Homo sapiens: one gene and its partners. The protein of the gene in region 4 interacts with the protein of the main gene of each other region in a biochemical or structural test. Each region holds a gene or a part of one and is shown on either strand. Other genes may lie near its edges. The genes, in order: POLI, TBP, GTF2B and GTF2E2.

Region 1 (6,298 bases), on a different chromosome or scaffold from region 4:
AGCCCAAGCTGCAGTGCAGTGGTGCGATCTTGGCTTACTGCAAGCTTTGCCTCTGGGGCTCAGGTGATTCTCCTGCCTCAGCCTTCCAAGTAGCTGGGACTAGAGGTGTGCGCCACCATACTCGGTTAATTTTTTTGTATTTTTAGTAGAGACGGTTTCACCATGTTGCCCTGGGTGGTCTCGTATGCTTGAATTCAGGCGATCCACCTGCCTTGGCCTCCCAAAGTGCGGGGACTACAGACGTGAGCCACCGTGCCCGACCAGTAGTGACATGCAGTGATGAGGCCATATAATGTAATGCTCTATTAAAGGACTCCTTTTTTTAGTTAAGAAATCTAGCAATCTGATTTTTTATGTAGTTCACTGAGGAATCTCAAATTATTATTACCTTTGGTTCCATGATTATATTTTTGGGCATTACCTGATATATGAAAAAACTTTATATAAAAATAATGTTGTTTATGATATCAAAATTTTAGAAACAATGTCTAATAGAGAAGTGGACATAACCTTTTTTTTCTACATGTTTGTATTTTACATATTTTAGGTGAACATTACTCTTACAGTGGTAAGCAAGTAGTCAACTTGTATAAAAAAAGAGCAAATAATTTTTAGCAATCTTGAGTCACCAATAAACTAGAATTTTTTATGCAGTCTGTAAATAAATGATCATAATTTAATCATTTTTGATAGAACAGTTCAATAAGTAGTACATAACTGTTAGATCCCTAAAAATTGCTGTAGCCCAGCACTTGTTTTATATATTTTATATACATATTATATTTTATATTGCTTTATATTAGCAAGTTACGGAGAAGAGAAGTTGAGTTTTTCTAGCAGCAACCAGTATTTAGTTGTACTCAATTATTTTCATCCGTTTTTTTTTTTTTTGGTAGAACATGCCCTATTATATGGCAGTATAAATTAATCTGCTTTTATATTGTCTGGAAAAAAATCCTAGAGAGATTTGATTTGTATCTTATCACTGAAGATTCCATAGAATATATTGATTTAGGTTCATTTTTAAATTTTAGAAATGTAATACATAGATTGCCTTTTGTATATGAATAATTGATCTATCGTCTAACTTTTAATTCTGTGTTATTCAGTGTTTTGTTATTTAATAATAACTTTCCTTCTTCAAGGAGACAAAACAACTAGAGATTAAAAGTGGGGTATGGAAAAATAATACATTGGTATATTATAATTCATAATTAGGAGATAGCTTGAAAACCTAATGTTTCTGCATTATAGAGATTTGATATATGGAGGCTATGTTTTTTAATTGAGACAGGGCTTTTGATTCTTATCAAAACTGATTGTCTTACAATTTAGACAAATGTAATACGGAATTAATAATATCTTTAAATGTTTTCTTCAATTGTGCTTGGGTTTCTCATAAAATATTTTTTACAGGGGTTCAACAGAAATATTTGGTGGTTACCTGCAACTATGAAGCTAGGAAACTTGGAGTTAAGAAACTTATGAATGTCAGAGATGCAAAAGAAAAGTGTCCACAGTTGGTATTAGTTAATGGAGAAGACCTGACCCGCTACAGAGAAATGTCTTATAAGGTTACAGGTACAAATGATAAGCAATGTACTTTTAGCATTAATTTTTATGTAGGATGCCTGTTCATTACATGAATTTTTTAATAAATGTAAAATAACATAAGTCAAGATGCTTTTTCCTAATAACTTCTTATTTTGGGTCTTGTCAACTTTAAAAATTATGTGAAAGGATAACTGTATGCTATGAATAGTATTTTTAAGAAGATGTATAGTTGGAAGTAATTTTAACTCTTATTATTGATGTTTATATAACAGGGAAAAGTGGAAAACAAAGTTTAAAAGTGAGAAAATGGGAAACTGTACTGTAAAAGATGCCAGGTCTTTAAAATTTTAAGTTTAAATGAATTACGAAGAAATATGTTGTTTTCTAATGCACTAATGATAATTGAAAGAGGCTTCTGTAACATTTGATCAACATAATTAAAAACTGATTTCTTATGAAATATTAATAAAAATATTGGATATATTAATATTTTCTTAGGTTTTATATATATACTAAATATTACAATGTAGCTAAACTTTCCTATGCTAAGGTTTGGGTTTAAATCTTAGTGTTATAGTAAATTACAGGAAAAATGAAAATGAGTGTGCACTGGCACATTGCAAATATAGTAGGTTGATGCAAAAGTAATTGTGGCTTTCACAATTACTTTTAATTGCGAAAACCGCAATTACTTAATATATAGTGTAAAAATGTATAATGATCAGCTTTGCAATTATTTGTCTTTTTTACTTTTTTTGTTTTTCTTTTATGATAGCAATTTTCAGATGACTGGATTAAATGTCTATAATATACAAAGACCTCTTAGAAATTAACAGGAAAAATAAACCTAATAACAAAGGACAAAGGATATGAATAGGCAGTTGACAAGAAGAGCCTAACCCAGTGTCTAACAATTATAGGGAAAAAATGCTCAAATTCATTAGTGGCCAAGGAAATTTGAATTAGTAAGATATTTTATATCTGTCATACTTGCCCAAAATTAAAAGCAATGTGAGAAAAAAGTATCAAGAACACTTACTGAGTTTAAAGATGAATGTTCTTCAATCCAGTGATATCATTGCTGGGAGTTTATCAAATAGAAATAAAATCATAAGGCTGGGTATTGTGGCTCATACCTGTAATCCCAGCACTTTTGGAGCTGAGGTAGGAGGATTGCTTGAGCCTAGAAGCTCGAGGCTGTGAGCCGTGATTGTGTCATTGCATTGCAGCCTGAGTGCGCATGACAGAGTGAGACTCTTGTCTCTAAAAAAGAAAGAGAACCACAAGTACATAAAGACATATGTACAACAATGTTTATCATAGCATGGTTTATGATTGTCAAAAGTATGGAAGGAAAAATGCCCATCAAGAGAAATAGCCAAATAAACTAAAACATCTGTATAATGGATATTATATAGCCATTAAAAAGAATTCATTGGTGCAATACTATTTGACTGATGGAGATAGGGCTTGTTGAGTGAATAAAAGGCAAGGTACAAAGTCATGTATCATGTTTTTCCAAATGTGTAAAATTATGGCCTAAATGCCTCCTCTCATATTCATCATATAGATGAAGAAGAGTAAATCATTGTTTTGATTTGCAGTTTTCCATGAGTAAGGTTGAGTATTTTTTCATATATTTTTGGTCATTTATGTATTTTTTTCTGTTAACGTATTCACTTGCACCTGTTTTTAATTTGGGTTGTTCATCTTTTTCTAAGTACTAAGTACCTAGTACTTTTTGTGTTAGGTATTTTTTGAAAAAAGTTACTTTATCAATTTTTCTCACAGTATTTTTCTGAGTTGAAGTAGGCGCGTAGCCAGTTAGTCCTTTACTGTATTTATCTCTGATCTGTTTATAACCTTATTATTTATTTCATATTTTGATGCTACTGCATATATACCTTTCTTCAAGGTATTTTTTTTTTCTGTAATTACAGACTCCTCTTTTGGGCCCTATATAATTATATGTTTAATAAATGTATCTTGCTTATGAAGTTGATACCAAGAAAGAGGTTAACTTCAGGAATGGAGGCTGGGCATGGTGGCTTATGCCTGTAATCCCAACACTTTGGGAGGCTGTGGTGGGGTATCATTTGAGGTCAGTCTGGGCAATATAACATAGCAAGACCCTGTCTCTACAAAAGTTAAAAAAAAAAAAAGTTAGCTGGTAGCATGTGCCTGCAGTCCCAGAGGCCGAGGTAGGAGGATTGCTTGGGCCCAGGAGGTCAAGGCTGTACTGAGCTGTGGTGTGCTACTCCACTCCAGCCTGGGCAACAGTGAGACCCTGTCTCATTAAAACTACAGCAACAACAAAAACCTTCAGGGACGGGATAATTAGGGATTTGTCCTGTGACCTAAAATCAGTCAATATTTAGTGATCCACCAGCTTCGTGCATGATTCTGTATTTAACTTGCTTTTCTATTTAGTGCTTAAAGCCTTATCCTTTATTTTTCTTATGTAGTATTCTTTTGATAAACTCTTGTTTTCTACATGTTACTTTGCATATCAGGTATATACTTTTGAAAATAAATTGCCGAAATTGATGAAGGAAATGCAAAACAATCATTTTCTTTGATTAGACATATTGTCAGTCTGTCCTGAAAGGAGGTAATAGTTTTCTCTAGGTAATAGTTTTCTCAGGAGTGATTTTTGGTGTTTGCCATGTCACATTGTTACCTTTATTGGTTTCCCCTCACATTGTCAATGTTGACATCAACAAAACAAAAAAGCACCTTTGGTGTTTGTGAAAAAACATGATCTATGTGGAATGAGATAGTCCTTTTATTTCTGAGCTTCAGATTATATGACCTTAAGAATCTATGCATTTTTGTATACTAAGAGACTTGCATTTGTTTTCTCTTATCCAGCTGGTGTCAGTAGAAAGTGATTCAGAGGGAAGTGAAAAACTTTCTCAATGATTTTAAAGTTATTAGTCTCAATGTTAATATATGAAAATTGATAGTTTTTTTGAATTTATTTTGAATTTTGGTTCAGCTTAATCTAGTAAACATTTGACTTGAGGACTAGATATTGTGCTAGACGCTGGGCATTTGAATACCTGTAAGTTGTGGTTCATCTCTGCCTCTCTGTCCTAAGGAATATTCTTGGGAATGGCTAATAAAAATACCACGTTATAGTATATTTTGAAAGTTGACTGACTTTCTGTTTTATTCAGTAATAATTGGACATTTTAAATATTATTTTGTTTTGCCTCTTTTAAACTCTTGGAGAAAATATAGCTAAAATATACTATTACTTGTTTTTAACTTTCCTGAGCAGCCTATAGTTTATTCTTTGACACATTTCTTCAAGGTCACCAATTTACTATAAGCATTGATATTTAATGTACTACAGATATAAAAATTATAGGTGTAGAAGATTGAGCTAGATATATTGCCATGAATAACTGCCCTAGGAATGTCATTTTTAGACTTTTTTGAAAATATTGCCTTTATACAAGATGTGGTACAGAAAAAACGTCAATTAACTGAGGGCTTTATTAAAGATATTATGGAACTATGAATGTATATAAAACCTTTAACAATAAATTTGATAAATTTTTAAGCACTAGATAGTTAAATTTATCCTAGTTATAACTTCATTTACATTTGTGCTCCAATATTATTTCAATTTAGAATTACTGGAAGAATTTAGTCCAGTTGTTGAGAGACTTGGATTTGATGAAAATTTTGTGGATCTAACAGAAATGGTTGAGAAGAGACTACAGCAGCTGCAAAGTGATGAACTTTCTGCGGTGACTGTGTCGGGTCATGTATACAATAATCAGTGTGAGTGGGTTCTTATTCATTCTACCTACTAACCAAAAGTACATACATTTCTTAATGTTCAGTGAGTTCGCTGTGTGATTCTGAAAGATTCATGACTTTTGTTGGAGGTATAGTTATATTTAGTCAGTAATCTGTCTAGGACAGCTAAAATTAGGTGCTGCTATTCCATAATAAGTGTTAAGATTTTGATGACATGTAGCTCAATGCTCTGTGCACTTTTCATTTGCACAGAGCATTGTTCCTGTTCATCTGCACAGAGCATTCATCTGTGCAGAGTTTTCGTCTGACACAGTGCATTGGTTCCCATTTTAGAAAGCCATACCCAGCTGGGCACAGTGGAGCGCCCCTGTAGTCCCAGCTGTTTGGGAGACTGAGCTGAGAAGATTGCTTGAACCCAGGAGTTTGAGTCCAGCCTAGGCAACAGAGCAAGATCCCATCTCTTAAGGAAACAAAAAGCCATACCTCTGTAGGTCATTCTTAAGTTGTAAGAGTTGGCTTCTTAATATGCTTTTTGGAATAATTTTTTATTATTCTAAAACAATCTCTAAGCAGAGTTTTCAGGTAGGCTAGATTTGCCTTTGATGTGTCTTTTACATGTTCCCTTCGATTCCCCTTTGATGTGTGTTTTACATGTTCACTTCGATTCCCCTGAGACCCTCATGTTGCTCTCTGAATTCCCAAGTTAGCACTTTTGGAATGTTGTCCAGGGCTATCTGCCATGTGCTAGAATCTTCTCCAAGCTCCTATTTAATCTGTTCAAATAATCTTTGTCAAAGTTAGCAAGAAAGCAGAATGGTTTGTCTCCTTCATATATTGAGATATGAATGACTGATGGTGTTTCCAGTGATATTTACATTTGAAAATAAGCTGCAGTAAGCACCAGTGAATATCTGATTAGGCTTTCAGACATCTTATGACTCTGCTGGTGACTCCCCTATCATACCACATACAA
Region 2 (7,874 bases), on a different chromosome or scaffold from region 4:
GCTATCTTAGTCAGTGTCCTCAGTAAAAGGCTCTTAACAGGTTTAGAAATGTGGTCATTTGTGTTTACATACCTGAGCCAATAAAATTTAATCTGACTTTCACTGTCGTTATTATTATATTATAGACATTTCCCTGTATCTGATATCGCTAAATCACAATGTTAGGTAGTCTCTTTCCCTTATGCTATTTTAGGTCTTTAGTCACAATATCAGTATAATTTCTGGTAGTTCTTGTTTTTTGTTTTTACTATGGGTGCTGCATATAAATCTTTGAAGGTCTGTGTCCTTCCCACAAAATGAAGACGACTGTTTTTGTCATAAATGGATTTTTCTACCTAAATGAAGTGGGTTCTATATGTAACAGTGTAGTAGGGGTAGGAAATAATTTCATCTTCCTGAAAAACCAGCAAATATTTCCAAATAATTCCAGTCAATAAGAAGTGTATAGCTTTTCATTTTAGAAAGCTTATGACCAAATTAAAAGGTTACTTGCAGTCTCTGCATCTCCTCAGTTTTCTTGTACAGATACCTTCCTCCTTCATACTCCCTTTAGATCTAGTATTTCCTATTTGCATTTATTCACCTTGTTACATATATGGTTGTTGTTTATAAGCTATCTCTCATCATTTTTGGAACTAAGTGGTGTGTAATCGTGGATGCTGACTTTCACCCAAAGACCTAAATCTTGCCTCCACAATTTTGTTTGACCCCACACACAATTTTAAAAACAAAGTAATTTTAGTGATTTTAGAGAGAGCCCTTTTTAGCTCACCCTTGTCTATACCACTCCCATGTGTCCAGCATGCTTGTCTGACTCCCAGGAATATTTAAGTTTGCATTTCTGATTTAAATAATAAATTATAAACAGTACAGTCAGGTGTTTGTTTCTTGCGAGTGCCTTTGCTGTTCTGATACTCCCCAGAGCATCCAGTCATCCACATTCCTGAATTTCCACTATCTACTAAGAACCCTCCCGGGTGGTAGTTCAGTGCCCTCTCCATCTTGTAGGCTTAAGAGGGATTAAGGTAAATATTTAATTAATGAAAATATATAAGAATACATTTAACAATTATGTGACTAAAGTTGTGATAGATATACTAAAATCTACTTGGTATAGTTCATAAGTGGACAAATGCTAAAGGCAGGTGTGTATACAAGGGTGATTGGAAGGAAATAGATGATATGGAAATGAAAACATTCATTGTGTGGATCAACCTAATTGGCTTTACAGTTGTGTATCATAGACTGTACAAGAAAAAGAACCAGAAGCAACAATGAGCTGAAACCTATTGTATTTGAACCTATGTATTTGAAATCTGGACTCGATATTCTTGGGATGGTGATTTCCAGGTCCATGCGAGACAGTTGTTGAGCAGTTAATTGCATTCAAAGGGCATTGCCCATTTCAACTATATATACTTTCATAAGCAGAAAAATGTATAATGAAAATGTGGGTTTGTTGTTTAAATTTTTATTAAAATTTCTAATAGAGTTGCTTTTTAGTATATCTTTATCCTTGTATAAGTTATTCGTTAAGTGATTTAAGAACACTGAGAAATGAAAAGGGTCAGTGGACCCAGATGGCTCCATTTATCCTTATTTACTGAGAGTTAATTAGAAGAGAAAGCAGGGTTTTGCCTTTTTTTTTTGCTAAAGACACTTAGCTCTTGTTTTTCAAAAGATACTTACTTTGAGAGAACTGGGCAGTTCATGCCTGCTTGTTTTCATTATAAATAGTTACTTAGGAATAGGGTGGTGGTGGTAGCTTTTCAGAGCTCACAGATGAGAATTGAGTTTGTCTGTGAGAAGGCTAAGGGCAGGCTCTGGAGACAGACAGACTCAAATCCTGGCTCCTCCACTTGGGAGCCATTGCGTCCTGAGCAAGTTGCACTCTACCTTTAAGCCTCAGCTTATTTATCCAAATGTGGGAATACTGGTAACTTCTACCTCAGTGCGTTATATGTATTAAATGGAATAATCTATATAAAATGCTCAACATGTGCATGATACTTGTTAAACAATAAATGTGAGCAATTAAAAAAAAGTAAAGCCTGGTTGAAATAATCAGATGTCTGCATAATTTCTAACGCCTCATCCAATGAAACTTAAGTAATTTAAATAGTCGTGTTTTCTTTTTAAATCTCTTACAGAAATATTGTATCCACAGTGAATCTTGGTTGTAAACTTGACCTAAAGACCATTGCACTTCGTGCCCGAAACGCCGAATATAATCCCAAGGTTAGATCTATTTTAATGTATTTCTTTTTTTTTTCTTTTTTGTCTCCTCTGCCGTGTCTCTATATTTTAATGTATTTCACGCTATAAAACAAATGTCTGTAGATCAGGCCAGGCACAGTGGCTAATGCCTGTAATCCCAGCACTTTGGGAGGCTGAGGAAGGAGAATTTCTTGAACCTAGGAGTTCACCACCAGCCCAGGCAACATGGCAAGACCCTGTCTCTTAAAAAAAAAAAAAAAATTGGCCGGGCTTGGTGGCTCACACGTGTAATCCCAGCACTTTGGGAGGCCGAGGTGGGCGGATCATCTGAGGTCAGGAGTTCAAGACCATCCTGGCCAACATAGTGAAACCCCGTCTCTACTAAAAATACAAAAATTTGCCGGGAGTGGTGGCATGCGCCTGTAATCCCGGCTACTTGGGAGGCTGAGGCAGGAGAATCACTTGATCCTGGGAGGCAGAGGTTGCAGTGAGCGGAGATTGCGCCATTGCATTCCAGCCTGGCAACAGAGCGAGACTCCGCCTCAAAAAAAAAATCTGTATATCAAAGAGTTTGTGTTATGCTTATTCCTTGACACCAATAAAATGAAGATCTAAAGTAAAATGTGCATTGTTTTGTATCTTTTATTGAGTGTCTGTGATATAAGAATCCCTGGGAGTACAGCAGTCTATAAAATAAGCTAAGTTATATATGTATTGTATTGGGATCATGTGAAGAATTTTGTATATGTATAGGGATGATGTTAGCCAGCTATAGTAGGCAAAGTAATTTGGATAAACATTAGCTGGGTTGAGAGAAATGTTAAGTAATGGACTTAGGGTGCATTTTAAAATCCCTGAAACATAATGCCTGAGATCTGAAAGACAGCTAAGGGTCTGAAAATCACCTTTTAACCACTCATAATGAGTCTGTATGACATGTAGCATTCTAAGAATTAATCTTTCATCTATTATAATCACATTTAGTTGAATACATAATTTTATTACTTTACGTTCTTAAGTGATATTTAACCAATAAAAATAGTAGAGGAAATTCTGGAAATTCAAAATAGCTAGGCTTTTCCTGGGACGTATATAAACTACTATATACTGCTAGCTTTTTTAGATGTTGATAAAATCACAGGGAAGACATAGAGCAGGTTTTAAACTAAAATTGTTAAAAGCCAGGCATGGTGACTCAGACCTGTAATTCCAGCACTTTGGGAGGCCAAGGTGGGAGGATCACTTGAGGCCAACAGTTCAAGACGAGCCTGGGCAACATAGCAAGGCCTTGTTTCATCAGAAAATTTAAAAAATTATCTGGGGTTGGTGGCACACACCTATAATCCCAGCTACTTGGGAGGCCAAGACAGAAGGATCTCTTGAGCTCAGGAATTCGAGGCTGCAGTGAGCCATGATTGCACCACTGCACTCCAGTCTGGGCAACAAAGTGAGACTCTTGTCTCTAAAAAAAAAAATTAATAAAATAAAAAAATAAAATTGTTAAAGCAATCTAGTTTGTCAAAGAGTCGTCTTAATTAGAAACATGTAGGTTTTTATTGTATAATTAAATGTATTAAAATATTTAAGTTGTTTCAAAGTAATTATTTGCTTTTTATCATGTACCTAATAACTGAGGCCATTAATTCAACCCACAGTTGAAATATTTTCCCCTTGAGTTACCACCTTAGCAAGAAAATTTTCTGAAAGAATTAACATGTTTCAAGCATAAAAAGCAGAAAATAAAAGTTAAAACTGTGTTTTTTTCCTAATTTGCATTTATGTGTTTAATACATTAATATTGTTTCTAAAGACCAATTGAAAGCATGATTTTACTTCATTACGTATTGATAGGCTTGTAATCTGATTTATTAATTCCATTAAGGTAGAAAAGGTTTATTGGTTTATTTGCCTCAAAATTCATATTAATAAAACAAAATGTATCAGAGAAGCTATAGTCATGATAAGCAGCAAATATAAAGTAGAAACAGAAGCACTTGTATTTATTGAGAACATAACCAAATTTTGCAAACATTTCTCTTGATGGAATGCTCATGTGAAAGAACATACAGATTTGGTATAACTTAGTCACAATTGATTATTTTCTGCTCCTTATGCAAAGGAATATTTGTTACATGTGGTGTATGCAAATCCTTTACAGATATACAGAAATACAGAACAAATATTTTGATAACTAGATGTACTATGTCCTTCCTACCAGTTGTGATTTTTTTGTCAATGGGTGGTTCGCCTAACAACATTGAGCAGTTTGGCATGACCTCACTAATGATTCTCTCTGACCATTGTAGCGGTTTGCTGCGGTAATCATGAGGATAAGAGAGCCACGAACCACGGCACTGATTTTCAGTTCTGGGAAAATGGTGTGCACAGGAGCCAAGAGGTAGCCGTAAGAAATTCATTCTTCTGGTCTATGGGTTATGAATGAAAAGGTGATATCTCATTGTTTTTAGGTTATTAGGTTAGCACTTTAACATGTTATTATTGCTTTCTTATAAAAACCATTTTAATATGATTCTATTAATTATTTTTATTTATTTATTTATTATTTGATTCTATTAATGTTAGATAGCAGTGATTTCATTTTCTTAAAAATTAGATATGGGCAGGCGTGGTGTCTCACCAAGGCGGGCAAATCACTTGAGGCCAGGAGTTCGAGACCAGCCTGACCAACATGGTGAAACTCCATCTCTACTAAAAATACAAAAATTAGCCAGGCGTGGTAGTGGATGTCTGTAGTCCCAGCTACTTGGGAGGCTGAAGCACGAGAATCGCTTAAATCCGGGAGGTGGAGGTTGCAGTGAGCTGAGATCATGCTACTGTACTCCAGCATGGGAGACAGAACAAGACACTTTCTCCAGAAAAAAGAAAAAAATTAGGTAAGATGTAATACAACATCAGAACTATTAATAAAATTCCCTTTATGTGAAAAATGTTGTAAATAACACAAATACATCTTGAAATGGAAGAAAAAATTGATCAAGAATTAAAACACTTCTAAGCTAATGGTGTAAGGGCTTTGCAGACCTTATTGGGCCTGGCAGCGTGACAGCATCACATGTGTTGGCTGCAGAAACCTGCCTTCTCACTGGAACTAGCTTTCATTAATAGTGTTTGAGTTGTGCAGATCTTAAGGAATGCACCCTTGTTATAAAATGTCATTGCCTATATTCTCCATCTGAAGTGATCCTGTCTGAAGGTTAGTACTCTGCGGCCCTGACTGTTCTAAACAGAGCTTATATACTTGGTAGAAGTCAAAAACTAGGGGGAAAATTAGTGACATTAGCTTCATAAATGAACTGAACAAATAAACTAAAACTTTTTAAATGAAAGAGTATTAAATGTACTTGGAGGTATCAACACATAGAAGGGGGCTGTGGATATTTTTGCTTATTCTGAAGTTTGAAATTGTCTTTCAGTGATGGGAATGCCATTGGTGTGGACATTCTGGCTCCTGATCTCCGAGGTTTTTCAGAATGCAGGACAAGGATGTGTTCTTGCCTTTCACTTCCCCTTGGCCACAACATGCAGTAGTAACCTCTTTAATTAAGAGCGTTTTTGTTTGCTTGTTTTCCCCTGCATGGAACATCAGAAACTTTTGGTTTATCAAGGCAAGCTTTTCATGCAGCATTTAGCCTTTTTGTCCCAGAGCATCTGAAAACTGAATATTGTATATGTAGTTGGATGACTATTTCATCAAGACAAGAAACCACCAATACATTTACCTGAAATTTAAAAGCGTAGCATATATATATATGCTTGATTTTTGTTCTTCCTGATCCCCTGCACCTGATAGTCTCTTTATGGTAATATTTTCACATTCTTTTTTGTTGTTGTTGTTGTTTTTGAGATGGAGTCTCGCTCTGCGCCCAGGCTGGAGTGCAGTGGCATGATCTCGGCTCACTGCAAGCTCCGCCTCCTGGGTTCACGCCATTCTCTTGCCTCAGCCTCCCGAGTAGCAGAGACTACAGGTGCCCACCACCATGCCTGGCTAATTTTTGTATTTTTAGTAGAGATGGGGTTTCACTGTGTTAGCCAGGATGGTCTCAATCTCCTGACCTCATGATCCGCCTGCCTCAGCCTCCCAAAGTGTTGGGATTACAGGTGTGAGCCACCGTGCCCGACCTGCCTGCCTGCCTTTTTCTCTTTTATTTTTTCTTTTTTTCTCTTCTTTCTTTCTTTCCTTTTCTTTTTTTTTTTTTTTTTTTTTTTTTTTGGTGGAGTCACCTAGGCTGGAGTGCAGTGGCACAATCTTGGCTCACTGCAACCTCCACCTCCCAGGTTCAAGTGATTCTCCTGCCTCAGCCTCCCAAGTAGCTGGGATTGCAGGTGCCTGGCACCATGCCCAGCTAATTTTTGTATTTTTAGTAGAGATAGGGTTTCACCATGTTGACCAAGCTGGTCTCGAACTCTTGACCTCAGGTGAGCTATCCGCCTTGGCCTCCCAAAGTGCTTGGGATTAGAGGCGTGAGCCACCATGCCTGGCCCACATTCTGCTTTTCTTATGTAAGCTCTGAACTGCTAAGTCGTAGTTTATTCAACAAATGACATAGGAATGTCTATTCATGATGAGTCTTGGTATAAAAGAGGATAGAATTAGTGAATACATTGTTCAATAATAAATCTCATCAACATTTTCTGATCAAAATGAAGTTTGTTAGTTTTCCTCTCAGTAGAAATGCATGGGCTAAAATACAGAAATAGTGATGACTGATGATGGTGATAATTCACATCCATAAAATCTAGGGCTACAATAATTTGGCGGATTGAAAGGTCATTTTGGCAGGCCTACAGTTTTCTGTCAAGGATCCAGGAATACTTTATAAGGAATTGTGAATGCCTGTCAGTCTTTTCTCCTATTGCAAGAAGGCTGACCAGTTTACACTTTATTAGTTTACTGTTTTGGACTTTTTATAAGTTATTAGTCTAAATAAGTATTTTAGCTGGCTCTGAGTATGAATAACTCACTTTTTTCCTTTCCCTAGTGAAGAACAGTCCAGACTGGCAGCAAGAAAATATGCTAGAGTTGTACAGAAGTTGGGTTTTCCAGCTAAGTTCTTGGACTTCAAGATTCAGAATATGGTGGGGAGCTGTGATGTGAAGTTTCCTATAAGGTTAGAAGGCCTTGTGCTCACCCACCAACAATTTAGTAGGTAAGTCTGAAATGTATTATGATTGTTATTGGCAACAGTTCATTTATAATCTAAACATTGTTCAGAATAAAACACATGCAAAATATTCAGTATATGAGAACAGTTGACATGGTTATAGTTGTATGTATTCTTGCATTGTCTTCCTGATGTTCTCAGTCATATTTATCACCCTCACCAGCCTCTGCTTCCCTTATCACTTTGCGGTACCCATAACTCCCCTTTACTGGAATGAATTTGATTCTACTTCTGTATGTTTTATCGTTTTATTGCTGAATACACTTGGAATGCATGAATTGACCCTAACCTTGTATCAATTTTTTTTCCCAGTTTGGATCTTCTCTTTTAGTCAACATTGTGTCAGATCTACCAGCAAAGTGTGAAGTTGAGCGATAGGAACAACTTTCTAATTATCTTCCCTGCTACTTGCAGGTGAAGACTCACAGGCAGGCAGCCCTGCCCACCTCACTGCTTCATCTCATGGTCTTCTGG
Region 3 (7,874 bases), on a different chromosome or scaffold from region 4:
AAAGGTCACACTCTAGGTGGAGGGAGGAGTCGTGCATATATATTATAGTAGTGTAAGTTTTCTTTGATACTATAAATCTTCACATAGACTACAGTGTGTGGTTAAGAAGGAAACTAGTGGAAATTCATATGTGTCTCTGTTTCTAGAACACTAAAGGATATGTGAAGTTTTGTGTATTTGCTAATTGGCTGGCTGCTTCCTTTTCAAAAGTTGACTATAGATTATACCCAGGCATGGCTGCCTTGTACCACTTAGCCCTTGAAAAAGTTTTGTCTCGCAGCTTTCTTCCAGAGCAACTTTTAAAAATACTACTCCATTTAGATTTTCTTCAAATGAAAATTCTTTATGTGTTCTAATTTTTTCTGAATGGACTTGCCCTGTTTCTTGTTACTCATGCACTTAATCTGCTGGACTAGTTGTAGTTGCATGGTATGCTAAATGAGTTGTTTTGGAAACTTCATTCCTTGTGAATGCTCTTTTGAGTAGTTAAATATAAAAAGAGGGAATGGTTCTTAGCACAAACCACAGATTCTTGAACGAGTCATTTAGATCATTCCTACGTATGTGGAAAAATTACATCACCACCCAGTGTTGCGCTTTCTATTTATACTATACTACCTTAAAATAATCCATTTAAAAAAAATAAAAAATCCATCTTGTCTTTATAAAAACAGTATAAAGCAGGCAGCAAATGAATCTCATGGTAAGGTATTTCAGAAAATGCTATGAAATGAAGCATCTTAGCTAACTAATGGTTTATCTTTAGATTTCTAGAGAGACTTAAAAGATGTGGGCATACCTTCCTGCCTTTTCATTTATGCCATTCTCTTGATACATTCATGTATGTTAATAAAAATATTGCAAGTTATTGATGACATTTGTTGATTTTTTTTAGCTTAAAATTTAGTAACTCTGGGTTTGAAGGCCACGGTTATTTTTGTTCTATGCATGTTTGTGTTTTTATTTTGCCAAATAGGAAAGTTAGATTGTCTTTTCTGTCTTTGGACATAAGTGCATGGGAACACCATGGTATCACTTTAATTGGTGGATGCTATTAAAGGGACTAAATTCTGTCTAAAAATACCATGCTGGTGTTTATGATAAATTTAATGAAAAGAGCTTGTCATGAAACAGGCACAGTATCTAAATTTTAGGAAAACGTAGGTGCATACATATGAACGAAAAACACAGAGCATATATGAAAATATAGTGGTCATTGGGTATTGGGAATGCAGGTAATTTTTTTCTAACGTATCTTTTAGTGAGCAAATATTTTGTAAAAAGGAAGAAAAATTGATCTCTTTAGTGTGATCTCTTTGAGACATGGGCTTGTTGGTGAATAGTACTCACTGCACAGTGGTTTGGTAAGGTTTCAGTGCACAATGACAATTTATGATACTTTTAAGTATCTTTTTAAAATCTGCATAATTCAAACTGCTTCCTAAGTTTAGTGATGTTTATTATGAGGAAGAGGAAACAGATAAATCCTTGTAATGCCATCCATCTAACGCTTTTCTCCTTGTTTCGGGCCACCTGCTCAATGTGTGATGTATTAAAATTGCCTTCTAACTTACTGTCCTGCTTCTGCCTTCCTTGCGTGTTCTCCTTGCATACAGGGATGGCACATGGGAACTCTGCCTCTAATCTCAATCCCTTTGTAATGTGGACACATGGTAGTCCAACTGATAATCCGCTTTTACCTTGGTGATTCAGTTGTTTAAAGAAAAGTTTTTCTGTTGTGCATGGTGGCCCACCCCTGTAATCCCAGCACTTGGGGAGGCCGAGGTGAGTGGATCACTTGAGCCTAGGGGTTCACGACTAGCCTGGGCAACATGGCAAAACCCCATCTCTACAAGAAATACAAAAATTAGCCAGGCAGGCAGTGGTGGTGCATATCTGTAGCTGCTCAGGAGGCTAAGGTGGAAGTATTGCTTGAGCCCCAGAGGCAAAAGCTGCAGTGAGCCAAAATTGCACCACTGTACTCAAACCTGGGCAACAGAGTGAGACCCTGTCTGAAAAAAAGGAAAAGAAAAAAGAAAAATTTTGTCAGAGGCTTCAGAAATGAATCATTCTCTTGAGCATTTGCTTACTTTAGACAGGGTCTCCCTCACCTAGGCTGGAGTGCAGTGGTGTAATCATGGCTCCCTGCAGCCTCAACCTCCTGGGCTCAGGTGATCCTCCCACCTCAGCCTCCCTACAGGCACATGCCACCACGCCCAGCTAATTTGTTTTTGTATTTTTTTGTAGAGACAGGGTTTCACCATGTTGCCCAGGCTGGTCTTGAACTCCTGGGCTCATGTGATTTTCCTGCTTAAGCCTCCCAAAGTGCTAAGATTACAGGTGTGAACCACCATGCCCAGCCTTTTTTTAAATCTATCACTAAGATTATATGATCACTATACTCTGGTTGTTTATGAGCATTTAAATTAATTTTTATATAAAAAATTAAAAAGTTAGCATAGTCTAGGTGGAATTCCTTCCGTTTTCTCTGTTCTTTGCTGTCCTCCTGATCAAATACTTAGCGGAGCACTTGGAAGCTTTTAAAGTCTTCTATGGAGATTAATTTTTGTTTGTTTGTTTGTTTTGTTTTGTTTTTTTTTTGAGATGGAGTTTCACTCTTGTTACCCTCTTGTTGCGATCTCAGTTCACCACAGCCTCCACCTCCCAGGTTCAAGCAGTTCTCCTGCCTTAGCCTCCTGAGTAGCTGGGATTACAGGCATGTGCCACCACGCCCAGCTATTTTGTATTTTTAGTAGAGACAGGGTTTCTCCATGTTGGTCAGGCTGATCTCAAATTCCCAACCAGGTGACAGCCCGCCTGGACCTCGCAAAGTGCTGGGATTACAGGCATGTGCCACCATGACCAACTAATTTTGTATTTTTAGTAGAGACGGGGTTTCTCCATCTTGGTCAGGCTGGTCTCAAACTCCTGACCTCAGGTGATCCGCCTGCCTCGGCCTCCCAAAGTGCTGGGATTACAGGCCTGAGCCACCACACCCGGCTGGAGATTAATGTTTTAAACTGATGCGTCTCCCTTATCATCCCCACAAAAAAGGAGAAACTCAGAATATTTGCTATCTTTCTAATTTTCATAGCAGTAAATAGTGAATATTGAGCACTTAGTACTACTTTTTAAGCACTTTACATGCACTGTACATGGGTATTATAATAGCTTAGTCTTTATAATCTTTAAAATATGAGGTTAAAGAGAATTTTAGAGCTGAGGTAATAAAGACATAGAAATGAAGTAATATTCCAAGGCTAAGCAGCAAAGGGCAGAGTTCACACCCCTGACTATTATATTAATTGACTGCTAGTACCGTAACTTCTAATTGCTACAGTAACTGGTTTCTGCCGTTTGTTTCTTTCTGTTTGCTGTGTATACACAAAGATGAAATGGTCTGGTTCCTTCCTACTTTCAGCTTCATCACACTTCACTGAAAAAGGTCATGTTTTACAATTGGAGTGTAGAACAAACTCTGATGTGCGTTTCAGTTCTAGCTATGTGATCTTAGGCTAGTTAATCTTATTTGTAAAGTGGCAATAAAATTGGTACCTACCTTTATAAGGCTGTGAAGATTAAGTGAGAACATTTACAAAAGGGCACAGTGAGTAGTATGTGTTAAGTATTCAGTGTTAACTTTTGTCTACTCTGAAGGTATTGCCAGACATTGAGCTTTCTCACCAAAACAGTAATAATAAGGTTTACTTGTGTCTGCTTTTATTGGACATGATATATTTAGATGCTGCCTCTTTGCTTAAAGAGAAAAGTTTGCCTACCAGGCTTTCTTCTCACGGATTCTAGGCTTGAGGTTTATTCTGTATAAATTATTTGGCCAGGTATGTTTTTCATCAGATTGTTACTTTGAAACAGAAGCTTAGGCTTATTTTCTGCGAAGCATTTCCCACGCAAACTTAGTGACATTTTAATATGAAATTATTTGCATTAATACCATTCTAAAAAATGTTTTCTCTTTTTTTCCCATGCCTATTGCAAATTTTGTGCAAAATCTGGTTCTTAATCATTATTACATTGGTTTACCTTTGCATCACATATGAATAGCTGTACTTTGCTACTTTTGACTAATACTTTTTCTTCCAAGAGTTAGAATATCATAGCATAATGTTTCAAGAGGATTATTGTTAGATTGGCACAATAGTTAAAGGAATGCTTTAGGACAAATGTCTGAAATGTGATATTTAAGCTTGGTCCTAGATGTCCATGTTGAGATTTCCTGGGAATAAAATGGCTTAGTTGGGCATTGGACAGTGTAGTTAAGTAAACCCTATCTTGACAAAATGATTCAGATATGTGCTTATATTCTTAGGTGACCGGGTTATTGATGTGGGATCTGAATGGCGAACTTTCAGCAATGACAAAGCAACAAAAGATCCATCTCGAGTTGGAGATTCTCAGAATCCTCTTCTGAGTGATGGAGATTTGTCTACCATGATTGGCAAGGTAATAAGTCCATTTGGCAGGAAATACCAATTGCAGAGTGACCATAGACCTGAGAGTTTGGGAACTTTGCAAAAGTATCAGTCACTGCACCAGTGGGGAATCTTGACCTGTCTAATAAGATTTGCCAGTAATATCATTGTGAATGATGGCTAACTTGTGTGTGTATTCCATCTTAAAGTGGGGAAGACCATTAAATCAAAATTATAAAGCCTTTATATCAGGCCTTTTTTCATAAATGACATTTTCTGTACACACAAAAAATGAGTGTAGTGTGGCCTTCATGAGTTAATATTGATATGTTCTTTGAATATCAAGAATGTCTTCTCAGCTGGGCATCATGGCTCACACCTGTGATCCCAGCACTTTGGGAGGCCAAGGCAGGCGGATCACAAGGTCAGGAGTTCGGGACCAGCCTGGCAAATATGGTGAAACCCCATCTCTACTACAAAAAAAAAGGAAAATAGAAAAATTAGCCAGGCTTGGTGGCGGGCACCTGTAGTCCCAGCTTACTCGCGAGGCTGAGGCAGAAGAATTGCTTGAACCCAGGAGGCGGAGGTTGCAGTGAGCCAAGATCGCGCCACTGAACTCCAGCCTGGGCAACAGAGTGAGACTCTGTCTCAAAAAAAAAGAAAAGAATGTCTTCTCTTTTCTCTCTATACCACTTAAGATAAATGGGAGGTTAGTGTAACCTCTTTTCTGATATTAGTGAATTTATGACTTACCTAACTTTACATTCCTTATCTGTAAAATGAGAATAAGAGTACTTATAGAGTTTTTGAGGGTTTCATGAGAATGTATGTAAAGTATTTATATAACATGTATTGTATACTGTGTGCTCAGTCAGTGGTAGCTGCTATCATTGTGTAAGGCAATAGTATAGTTTTCTTGGCAGCCTGATTCTCACTCTGTTATCCGAGTTGGAAGTAATAGTGACGGTATTACTGAGGGCTAATCAAGGAAGTATACACCATTTTATAACTTCATGTATACTATTGCATAGTCTCTTTTTTTTTTTTTTCCAAAAAAGTCTTGTTTAAAATCTGTCTGGCTGGGCACAGTGGCTCATGCCTGTAATCCCAGCACTTTGGGAGGCCGAGGTGGGTGGAGATCAGGAGTTCAAGACCAGCCTGGCCAAGATGGCGAAACCCCGTCTCTACTAAAAATACAAAAAGTAGCTGGGCATGATATGATGGTGGGCACCTGTAATCCCAGCTACTCAGGAGCCTGAGGCAAATAATTGCTTGAACCCGGGAGGCGGAGGTTGCAGTGAGCTGAGATCGCGCGACTGCACTCCAGCCTGGGCAACAGAGTGACACTCTTGTCCAGGCAGGTCTTGAACTCCTGGTCTTCAGCAGTCCTCCCGCCTCAGGCACCCAAAGTGCTGGGATTACAGGCATGAGTTTACCATGCCGAACCCTGTATAGTCTGTTTTGTTTTTGAGACGTTCTAACACTGTCGCTAAGGTGGGAGTGCAGCAGTAGCTTGATCTCGTCTCACTGCAACCTCCACCTCCCAGGCTGAAGCGATCCTTCCACTTCAGCCTCCCAAGTAACTGGGACCACAGGTGTGGGCCACGACACATGGCTAATTTTTGTATTTTTTGTAGAGACAAAGTTTCGCCATGTTGCCCAGGCTTGTCCCAATTCTTGGGCTCAAGTGATCCACCCACCTCGGCCTCCCAAGGTGCTGGAATTACAGGTGTGATCCACCATCCCTGGGCAAGATAGAAATATTTTTAAGCTGCTAGATTTATCACATAATAAATTTCTATGTGTACTTGGGCATATTTCTCAACTTTCTATCTTTTCCTGTCCTGGTCCAGTTAGTCAAATGCCATACAACACTGTTTTAGTATTTAGTAGCACTAGTTTTCCCTCATTGCTCTTTTTCAGCATTTTCTTCGCTAGTCTTTTCCATTTAAAGGTTAAGTTTGTTTCATTTTTTAAAAAAATTTAGGTTTGTTCACTTGCATTTTTTGTACCTTTGGAGTTGATTAAATGATTTTCCTCTTCAGCTCTATTAATATGATGTTTTATGTTATTAGATTCTTTAATATATTTGTGGAACAGTCTCCACTTGGTTGATATTACTGCCTTTTAATACCCTGTTGGATTCTGTTTCCTGTGGGGTTTTTTGGTTTTCTTCTTTTGAGACAGGGTCTCTTTCTGTCACCCAGTCTAGAGTGAAGTGATGTAATCATAGCTAACTGCAGCCTCAAACTCCCAGGCTTAGGTAACCCTCCTGCCTCAGCCTCCTGAGTAGCTGAGACCACAGGCGTGTGCCATCACACTCGGCCTGTTTTGTTTTGTTTTGTTTGAGACAGAGTTTCGCGCTTGTCACCCAGGCTGGAGTGCAATGGCACGATCTCTGCTCACTGCAACCTCCGCCTCCCAGGTTCAAGCGATTCTCCCGCCTCAGCCTCCCAAGCAGCTGGGATTGCAGGCATGTGCCACCACGCCTGGCTAATTTTGTACTTTTAGTAGAGGTAGGGTTTCTCCGTGATCATCAGGCTGGTCTCACACTCCCGACCTCAGGTGATCCGCCTGCCTCAGCCTCCTAAAGTGCCAGGATTACAGGCATGGGCCACTGCGCCTGGCCTGTTTTTTAATATTTAATATTCTCACTGGGGTTTTGGTCAGATTCATTTGCAAATTGACACAGGGAAAATTGGCTTCTTCATAATAAATCTTGTATTCAAAAATTCATAATGCCTTTCCATTTCCTTAGGTATCTTATGTGTCCTTCAGGAGATGTTTGAAAGTTTTCTTCATGAACGTCTCACATGTTTCTCAAGTTTATTTCAAGATTTTTGTTGTTGTTTTAATTGAAAAATTTGCTTTCCTTGTCTTTTAAGTTGGTTGATTGTACTTATGAAGGGTATTGATTTCTATTTATCTTGACCTTGCTGCTTTAATGAATTATTTATAGCAGCTGTTTTTTAGTGATTTTCTTGCATATTCCAGGTGTATAAAGGTACTATCTGCAAATAGTTTATCACATCCTTTCCAATTTTGTACTTCCGGTTTTTCTCTTGCTTAATACTATTGGCTAGTTTTTCCAATCAGTGTTACAAAATGGTAGCAGTAGGAGGTACCTTTGTCTTGTGATTTTGGTGATAATGCTGGTAATGTTTCTCCATTAATCATAGTACTTTCTTTGGGCAGAGGAGAGTGGTTTTCTAATGTAAAGAAGTACTCATTTGTAGCGTCCTATGAGTTTTTATCAAAGACGAATTTTGATTTTGTTCATTTGCCTTTTTAGCGTCTTTGGAGATGATCATGATTTTTCTTCTTACATCTATTAATATAATGTTTTACATTATTTGATTCTCTAATATCTTGTGGAACAATCTCTAGTTGGTCATGATATACTACCTTTTAATATGCTGTTGGATTCTGTTTTCTAGTATTTAA
Region 4 (7,874 bases):
TCACCTACTGAAGGACATCTTGGTTGCTTCCAGCTTTTGGCAATTATGGATAAAGCTGTAATAAGCATCCTTAGTGGATTTTTGTATGTACATAATTTTTTGGCTCATTTGGGTAAATACCAAGGATCGTGATTGCTAGATTGATCAAATGGTAAGAGTGTGTTTAGTGTTGTAAGAAACTGCTGAACTGTCTTCCACAGTAGCTGTACCATTTAGCATACTCACCAGTAATGAATGACAGCTCCTGTTCCTTTGCATCCTCTCTAGCTTTTGGTATCTACGTGTGTGTGTGTGTTTTCTTTGGATAGGCATGATACATATGTTTTTTAACTTATTAATTTGTCTTGGACATCTTTTCAAATTAGCACATAGAGAACTTTTACATTTACTTTGTGAACATCTGTGTAGTGGAATGGATGTGCTGTAGTTAATCTGTCTTCTAATATGGACGCTTGGGTTATTTCTAATATTTTCCTTTTATGAACAATGCTACAGTGACCATAAGTCACTTTTCTGTGTGGTACTGGTATTTCTGTAGGATAAGTTTCTAGAAATAGGATTGTTTGGTGAAAGTTGAGTGTCTTTTCCTATGTTTAAGGTCATTTTTTGCAATCTGCGCGTTTCTGTCTTTGGGTCATTTTCTGTTAGTTTTGTGTTTTTTCAAGACAGAGTCTTGCTCTTGCCTCCCAGGCTGGAGTGCAGTGGCATGATCTCAGCTCACTGCAGCCTCCTCTTCCCAGGTTCAAGCGATTCTCCTGCCTCAGCCTCCCAAGTAGCTGGGATTACAAGCATGCACCACCATGCACGGCTGATTTTTATATTTTTAGTAGACATGGGGTTTCACCATGTTGGCCAGGCTGGTCTCGAACACCTGACCTGAAGTGATCCCACCTGCCTTAGTCCCCCAGAGTGCTGGGATTACAGCCATGAGCCACTGTGCCTGGTCTATTTTGTTAGTTTTTTGAAGCTCTTGAAATGTTAGGAAGAATATAGCTCTTGGTGATACGAGTTGCATATATTTTTTTGTCAGTTTGTCTTTTGATTTTATAGAGCAATGAGTTTCAACCCCATTCTGATTTCATGGTCTATGGCTCTTCGTCACTATAATTATGCTACCTGGAATAATACATGTTTTTCATTCCTGAAGGTTTGTTTACATGTAACTATGATTTAATGCATCTAGCATTTTGAAACTGTCTTCTAATAACAATTTCTTCACTTGATAGACACGGCATCAGCGAGGAGATACGCATCCTCTAACCTTAGATGAAATTTTGGATGAAACACAACATTTAGATATTGGACTCAAGCAGAAACAATGGCTAATGACTGAGGTAAGAATTTAGTTGATTATCAAGAGAGATTTCCTGTAACTAGAATTTTCTTTTTTTTTTAAGACAGAGTCTTGCTCTGTTGCACAGGCTAGAGTGCAGTGGCATGATCTCAGCCCACTGCTGACTCAGCCTCCCGAGTAGTTGGGACTACAGGCATGTGCCACGATACCAGGCTAATTTTTGTGTTTTTAGTAGAGACGGGGTTTCACCATGTTGGCCAGGCTGGTGTTGAACTCCTGACCTCAAGTGATCCGCCCACCTCGGCCTCCCAGAGTGCTGGGGTTATAGGCATGAGCCACTGCGCCTTGCCTAGAATGTTTTAATATGGTGAAATCTGATAATGCTTTTTACTTTTTCTTAAAAGAAATGGTGTAGGGTCTTTGTTTTTTGAATGTACACATTTATAAGATTGATTTGTTGGTTTTCATATAATTTTATGTTATCTGTTTCAAAATGTTAAAGGTAAGACTTTGTGTAATAGTTGTAAAGAAGTCATTGTACCAATTCGACTTAATGTTTTTACAGATTAATGCTTATTTTGTATTGCCAGATTTATAGTTTGTGTGCTTGTAAATTGAATTGTTTTTGTTTTAGGAAATTTAAAGCATAAGGTACTGCAGGGATAGGAAGATATTTTGTTGCACAATTACTGCTATTATGGCTTGATGTGGAAAAAAAGTCGCGAATGCTGTGTATGAACACACATCATTTGAAGAAACCCCAACGCAGTCAGTGACCATGCTAATTTGGAAATGAATAGCATTTAAAAATTCAAATGTTTACCGCTTTAAAATATGAAGTGAAAACTAAGAAGACTACTTTCTAGGACCAGAGATAGATTCTAGAAACCAAATGTAAAATTCCTAACATACAATTCATTTATTTTTTTACCAAGCAAAATACAGGTCTTGACTTTTATAATGTAACATGACCATTAATCAGTATAATTGTAGTTCATTGTATTAGTGATACACAAACAATGGTAATCCACATTTAAATTTGCTGGTTTAGCTAACCTTGAGAATTCATAGACTACCAACATTTAGTTAACAATGACTTTGATCATTTTACTATTCTATTCTCCCTTTTTTCTTCTTTCTGTGTTTCTTCTCTTTCTCCTTTCAGGGTCAGGCTGGCAGCTGCAGAAGAAAATATATAGGGTTGCTCTTTTTGAAGAGCTTTCCTTCTGATACTAACTGTACAACAGAACTGACTAGAAACATAATTATATTCAGTAATTCCTGCATTCCTACTCAGTTTCATTCTCAAGCTGACATTATAGGTAAAGTTCTTGTATGCACTAGTCTGGTCCTTTTCAGTTCCTTCCACAGCTGCCATTGCCAGTTGATAGCAGATGGGGAAGACCATTGACTAGTAAGGGTTATGTTCCTTACTTTATAATGCCAGTATGTGATAAGCTGTACTTTGCAGATGGAGTGGGCACTACTCAGTTCACTTTGTCTATTAATATTTGTAGGTGTTTTATTGATTCCTACACATTTTGACTACTAGAAGAATATGGGTTCAGCTTTTTTCAAAGTAGTTGTGATAAAATGGTTTATTTCTCTTCAAAGAATTTATGTAAATAAAACACAGTTTCTTTTATAAAAAGTGAGCACCGTGCTGATCTACTGTTCTGGAATTCTGGATGTCCAGGATTTTAGGCCTGCCAGTTTGTATTCATAAGGTACTTTTAATTTGCCACTGTATTGGCTAGTGTTGTATTTTAAAATAATTAGTAGAATTAAGAATGTGTATATGGGCTGGGCACAGTGGCTCACGCCTATAATCCCAGTACTTTGGGAGGCTGAGGTGGGTGGATCACCTGAGGTCAGAAGTTCAAGACCAGCCTGGCCAATGTGGTGAAACCCCGTCTCTACTAAAAATACAAAAATTCGCTGGGTGTGGTGGTGCGCACCTGCAGTCCCAGGTGCTGAGAGGGAGGGAGGCAGGAGAGGGAGGCTGAGGCAGGAGAATCGCTTGAACCCAGGAGGCGGAGGTTGCAGTGAGCTGAGATCACGCCACTGCACTCCAGCCTGGGCGACAGAGCAAGATTACGTTTCAAAAATATATATATATATTTATGTTCCATTTGTTAATATATTCCAATTGTATCACTGTTACAGGCTTTAGTCAACAATCCCAAAATTGAAGTAATAGATGGGAAGTATGCTTTCAAGCCCAAGTACAACGTGAGAGATAAGAAGGCCCTACTTAGGCTCTTAGATCAGCATGACCAGCGAGGATTAGGAGGAATTCTTTTAGAAGACATAGAAGAAGCACTGCCCAATTCCCAGAAAGCTGTCAAGGTAATCTCTCTTTTCTTTCTATGTCTTAATATAATTTGAATGAATAATGACTTCTTGGTTTTAAAAATATCAAACATTTTACAATTGTTTTTAAAGCTTCTATTATATACACATGGGTTACAGTGAGCCACTTGAAGGTTTGAAATTTGTCTTGTGCCACCTAGCAGGAAAGGGAGCAGCCATCTCTGTGTAACTTTGACGGGTTCTTGTTGCTGTTACTATATGATTGTTTGATTGTTCAGGCTATTTCTGGAAAATTTTCCTCAAAGGCAATAGAGTTTCTCTTGTAAGCTCTGTTTGTAAATAAGAGTGTCTTCTATAATACTAGTAGATGTTCCTTACCTGAGGAACTAGAGGCATTAAAACATGAAAGCATTGGTTAATAACCTGGCTGTTTTGAAGTCCTAAAGGGGCTATCTATGAAAGTCCTACTGATACAGATGACATTTCCAGTTTAAATTTGAAACTCACTGGGGAAAGCTGCTTGTTTCCATTTGTCACAGTTGCTCATTATTAATGTTAACTTGTTAAGCAGGTTCATTCATTTTGCTGCCTGTAGAAGAAAACTTGCCCCTTTGTCTCTTCTTCTTGGTAATGGAATTATACATGTCAGATCTTCTGGTATTGTACTACAAGTCCCTGAGGCTCTGTTTATTTATTTCAATTTTTTTTCTGTTCTATTAATCCATTGTCAAGTTCACTCACTTTTCTTCTTCACTTCCAACTTGTTAAGCCCAGTTGGTGAATTTTTTAATTGTATTTTTCAGTTCTAGTCTTTCTTTGTAAATTTTTCTTCTGGTTTCTGTTTCTTTGCTGAATTTTGTTTTCTTTTTTTTCCATTCGTGACAAGTATCTTTTGTTACACCCTTAAGTATGATTTCTTATAGCTGCTTTAAAATTCTTCTTATTCTAACAGCCGAGTCATCTCAGAGCTGGTCTGCATTGACTGTCTCTTTTATGGGTCATATTTTCCTGTTTCTTCATATATCTAATACATTTCTGTTGGGTCTTAGACCTTGTGGATTATATTAATATGTGTAAAGACTCAGGATTCTGTTACATTCCTCCCAAGAGTGTTTCTATTTGTTTTGTTTTGTGGTTAAGTGGGCAGTTACTCCAAACCTTGTCTGCCCTACAGCAGGTAGCATATGATATGTCTCTTCTGTTCTTCTAGCCTTAGCCCGTTTGCTTGGAATCTTGGAATCTTTTTCCAAGACTGGCTTATTTCACTTAGCATAATATTCTCAAGGTTCATCCATGTTGTACTTGCAACAGGATTTTCTTCCTTTTTAAAGCTGAATAATATTCCATTGTGTTTTTGTTGTTGAATTGTGGGAGTTTTAAAAAATATATTCTGGATATTAATTCCTTAACAGATACATGATTTGCAAATATTTTCTCCCATTCTGTAGGTTGCCATTTTACTCTGTTGATTGTGCTCTTTAATTTGCCAGTTTCTGAGTTTGCTGCACTCTTGTCTATTTTTGATTTTGTTGCCTGTGCCTTTAGTATCATGTTTAAATCACTGCCAAATCTAATGTCATGAAGCTTTTGTCCTATGTTTTCTTCTAGGAGTTTTATAGTTTTGGGTCTTAGGTATTTAGAGTTAATTTTTGTATATGGTGTAAGAGTCCAACTTTATTCCTTTTCATGTGGATATCCAGTTTTCTCAGTGTCTTGATGAAGAGACCGTCCTTTGCCCATTGAATAGTCTTAGTCTTGGTACTCATGTGGAAGATCATTTGACCATATATGTGAAGGTTTATTTCTGGGCCCTCTATTCTGCCTGTATGTCTTTCTTCATGCCAGCACTACAATGTTTTGATTAATGTAGCCTTTTTTTTTTTTTTTTTTTGAGACAGAGTCACACTGTCACCCATGCTGGAGTGCAGTGATGCAATCTTGGGTCACTGCAACCTCTGCCTCCCAGGTTCAAGCAGTAGTCCTGCCTCAGCCTCCTGATTAGCTGGGATTATAGGCACACACCACCACACCCAACTAATTTTTTTATTTTTGGTAGAGATGTGGTTTTACCATGTTGGCCAGTCTGGTCTCGAACTCCTGACCTCAAGTGATCTGCCCACCCTCGGCTTCCCAAAGTGGTGGCATTCCAGGTGTGAGCCACTGCACCTGGCCTGATTAATGTAGCTCTGTAATATATTTTGAAATCAGTAAGAGTGAGATCACCAATTTTGTTCTTTTTCAAGATTGTTTTGGCTATGTATTAGTCTATTCTTGCAATGCTATAAAGGAATGCTTGAGACTGGATAATTTATAAAGAAAAGAGATTGATTTGGCTCACAGTTCTGCAGGCTCTCCAGGAAGCATGATGCTGGTGTCTACTCAGCTTATGGGGAGGTCTCAGGAAACTTATAATCATGGCAGAAGGTGAAGGGGAAACAGGCTCATCTTACATGGCCGGAGCAGGAGCAAGAGAGAGTGGGGAAGGTGCCACACACTTTTAAATGACCAGATCTCATGAGAACTCATTATCAGGAGAACAGCACCAAGAGGGAAATCCACCTTCATACCAGTCACCGCCCACCAGGCCCCACCTCCAACATTGGGGATTACAGTTTGACATGAGATTTGATGGGGACACAGATCTAAACCATTTCAGGCTTTTTGAGGTCCCTTGAGATTTGATATAAATTTTTGGATGGATTTTTCCATTTCTGCAAAAAATGCCATTGGGATTTTGATAGGGATTACCTTGAATAGGTAACTTTGGGTAGTATTGCCATCGTAACTGTATTAAGTTTTTTAATACATGAGCACAGAATTCATTTATTCATGTCTTTAATTTTTTTTAGCAATGCCTTCAGGTTCTTTCATTTATTTTATGTATGTACAATTTGACTGTCCCTTATCTGTAATGCTTGGGACCAGAACTGTTTCAGATTTTGGGATTTTTTTCAAATTTTGGGATATTTTCATTATACCAGTTTAAACATTCCAGAGTTGAAAATCTGAAATCCAAAATGCTCCAGTGAGTATTTCTTTCTTTCTTTCTTTCTCTTTTTTTTTTTTTTTGAGGCGGAGTCTCTTTCTGTTGCCCTGGCTGGTGTGCAGTGGGGTGATCTCAGCTCACTGCAACCTCTGTCTCCTTGGTTTAAGAGATTCTCCTGTCTCAGCCTCCCAAGTAGCTGGGATTACAGACACCTGCCACCGTGTTCAGCTAATTTTTCTATTTTTAGTAGAGATGGGGTTTCACCATGTTGACCAGGCTGGTCTCAAAACTCCTGACCTCGGCCGAGTGCAGTGGCTCACGCCTGTAATCCCAGCACTTTGGGAGGCCGAGGCGGGTGGATCACGAGGTCAGGAGATTGAGACCGTCCTGGCTAACATGGTGAAACGCTGTCTCTACTAAAAAGTACAAAAAATTAGCCGGGCGTGGTGGCGGGCACCTGTAGTCCCAGCTACTCGGGAGGCTGAGGCAGGAGAATGGCGTGAGCCACCGTGCGGAGCTTGCAGTGAGCCAAGATCGCGTCACTGCACTCCAGCCTGGTTGACAGAGTGAGACTCCGTCTCAAAACAAACAAACTCCTGACCCCAAATGATCCTCCTGCCTCCCAAAGTGCTGGGATTATAGGTGTGAGCCATCACACCTGGCCCCCAGTAAGTATTTCTTTGGCATGTCATGTCAGCACTTAAAAAGTTTTGGATTTTGGATTCGAGATTTTGGGATTTGGGTTGCTCATCCTGTAGTTATCACCTTTTACCACCTTGATCTAGTGGACTATTATTTTTAAGCTACTTTAAGTCATTTTATGAATAATTTACATAAGTAAGAATAATGGGATGATGAAAACAGCTTTATTAGAGATTTTAGTAAGAATTTAACACAGCAAACTTCTGTATCAAGTAATTTTTGGAAAACACATCAAAAAGAAGAATACTGTCATATATCCTTTTAGCAAAGTGAGATGATAAAGATTCTTTTCACAAAATACTGTGTGATAATCTTCTGGTGAATAACGGGATGAGAATATTGTTTCCATTTTGTATTGAGAAGCATTTTGTTCGCTTGTTGATTCTTAAGCTTGAGAATCTTCACTTGAGTTATTGTCATCTAAAGACTCCATAGCTTGAGACTTTATTCCTATGATGAATTTTTGCCAGATAGTCTAGAGTGCTGCTATTTGGCTTTTTGCATTCATATTTTGATTCATCTAATAATTGTGAAATGTCTTTGGTCAGTTTTCTTGTCTTTGCTCTCAAGGGTAGAAAA

The links.
Region 1: the proteins of GTF2E2 (region 4) and POLI form a complex in vitro, tested with the Homo sapiens proteins (one large-scale study listed by BioGRID).
Region 2: the proteins of GTF2E2 (region 4) and TBP form a complex in vitro, tested with the Homo sapiens proteins (2 studies listed by BioGRID).
Region 3: the proteins of GTF2E2 (region 4) and GTF2B form a complex in vitro, tested with the Homo sapiens proteins (one study listed by BioGRID).

What each region holds. Positions count from the first base shown.
Region 1 is NC_000018.10:54,272,510-54,278,807, forward strand, and holds part of POLI (DNA polymerase iota isoform a (long)), read left to right. Parts: intron 1-1,416; coding exon 1,417-1,581; intron 1,582-5,193; coding exon 5,194-5,346; intron 5,347-6,298. UniProt on the Homo sapiens protein: Error-prone DNA polymerase specifically involved in DNA repair. Plays an important role in translesion synthesis, where the normal high-fidelity DNA polymerases cannot proceed and DNA synthesis stalls. Favors Hoogsteen base-pairing in the active site.
Region 2 is NC_000006.12:170,562,395-170,570,268, forward strand, and holds part of TBP (TATA-box-binding protein), read left to right. Parts: intron 1-2,150; coding exon 2,151-2,238; intron 2,239-4,523; coding exon 4,524-4,615; intron 4,616-7,217; coding exon 7,218-7,385; intron 7,386-7,874. UniProt on the Homo sapiens protein: The TFIID basal transcription factor complex plays a major role in the initiation of RNA polymerase II (Pol II)-dependent transcription.
Region 3 is NC_000001.11:88,860,568-88,868,441, reverse strand, and holds part of GTF2B (transcription initiation factor IIB), read left to right. Parts: intron 1-4,327; coding exon 4,328-4,461; intron 4,462-7,874. UniProt on the Homo sapiens protein: General transcription factor that plays a role in transcription initiation by RNA polymerase II (Pol II). Involved in the pre-initiation complex (PIC) formation and Pol II recruitment at promoter DNA.
Region 4 is NC_000008.11:30,608,068-30,615,941, reverse strand, and holds part of GTF2E2 (transcription initiation factor IIE subunit beta), read left to right. Parts: intron 1-1,226; coding exon 1,227-1,334; intron 1,335-3,460; coding exon 3,461-3,643; intron 3,644-7,874. UniProt on the Homo sapiens protein: Recruits TFIIH to the initiation complex and stimulates the RNA polymerase II C-terminal domain kinase and DNA-dependent ATPase activities of TFIIH. Both TFIIH and TFIIE are required for promoter clearance by RNA polymerase.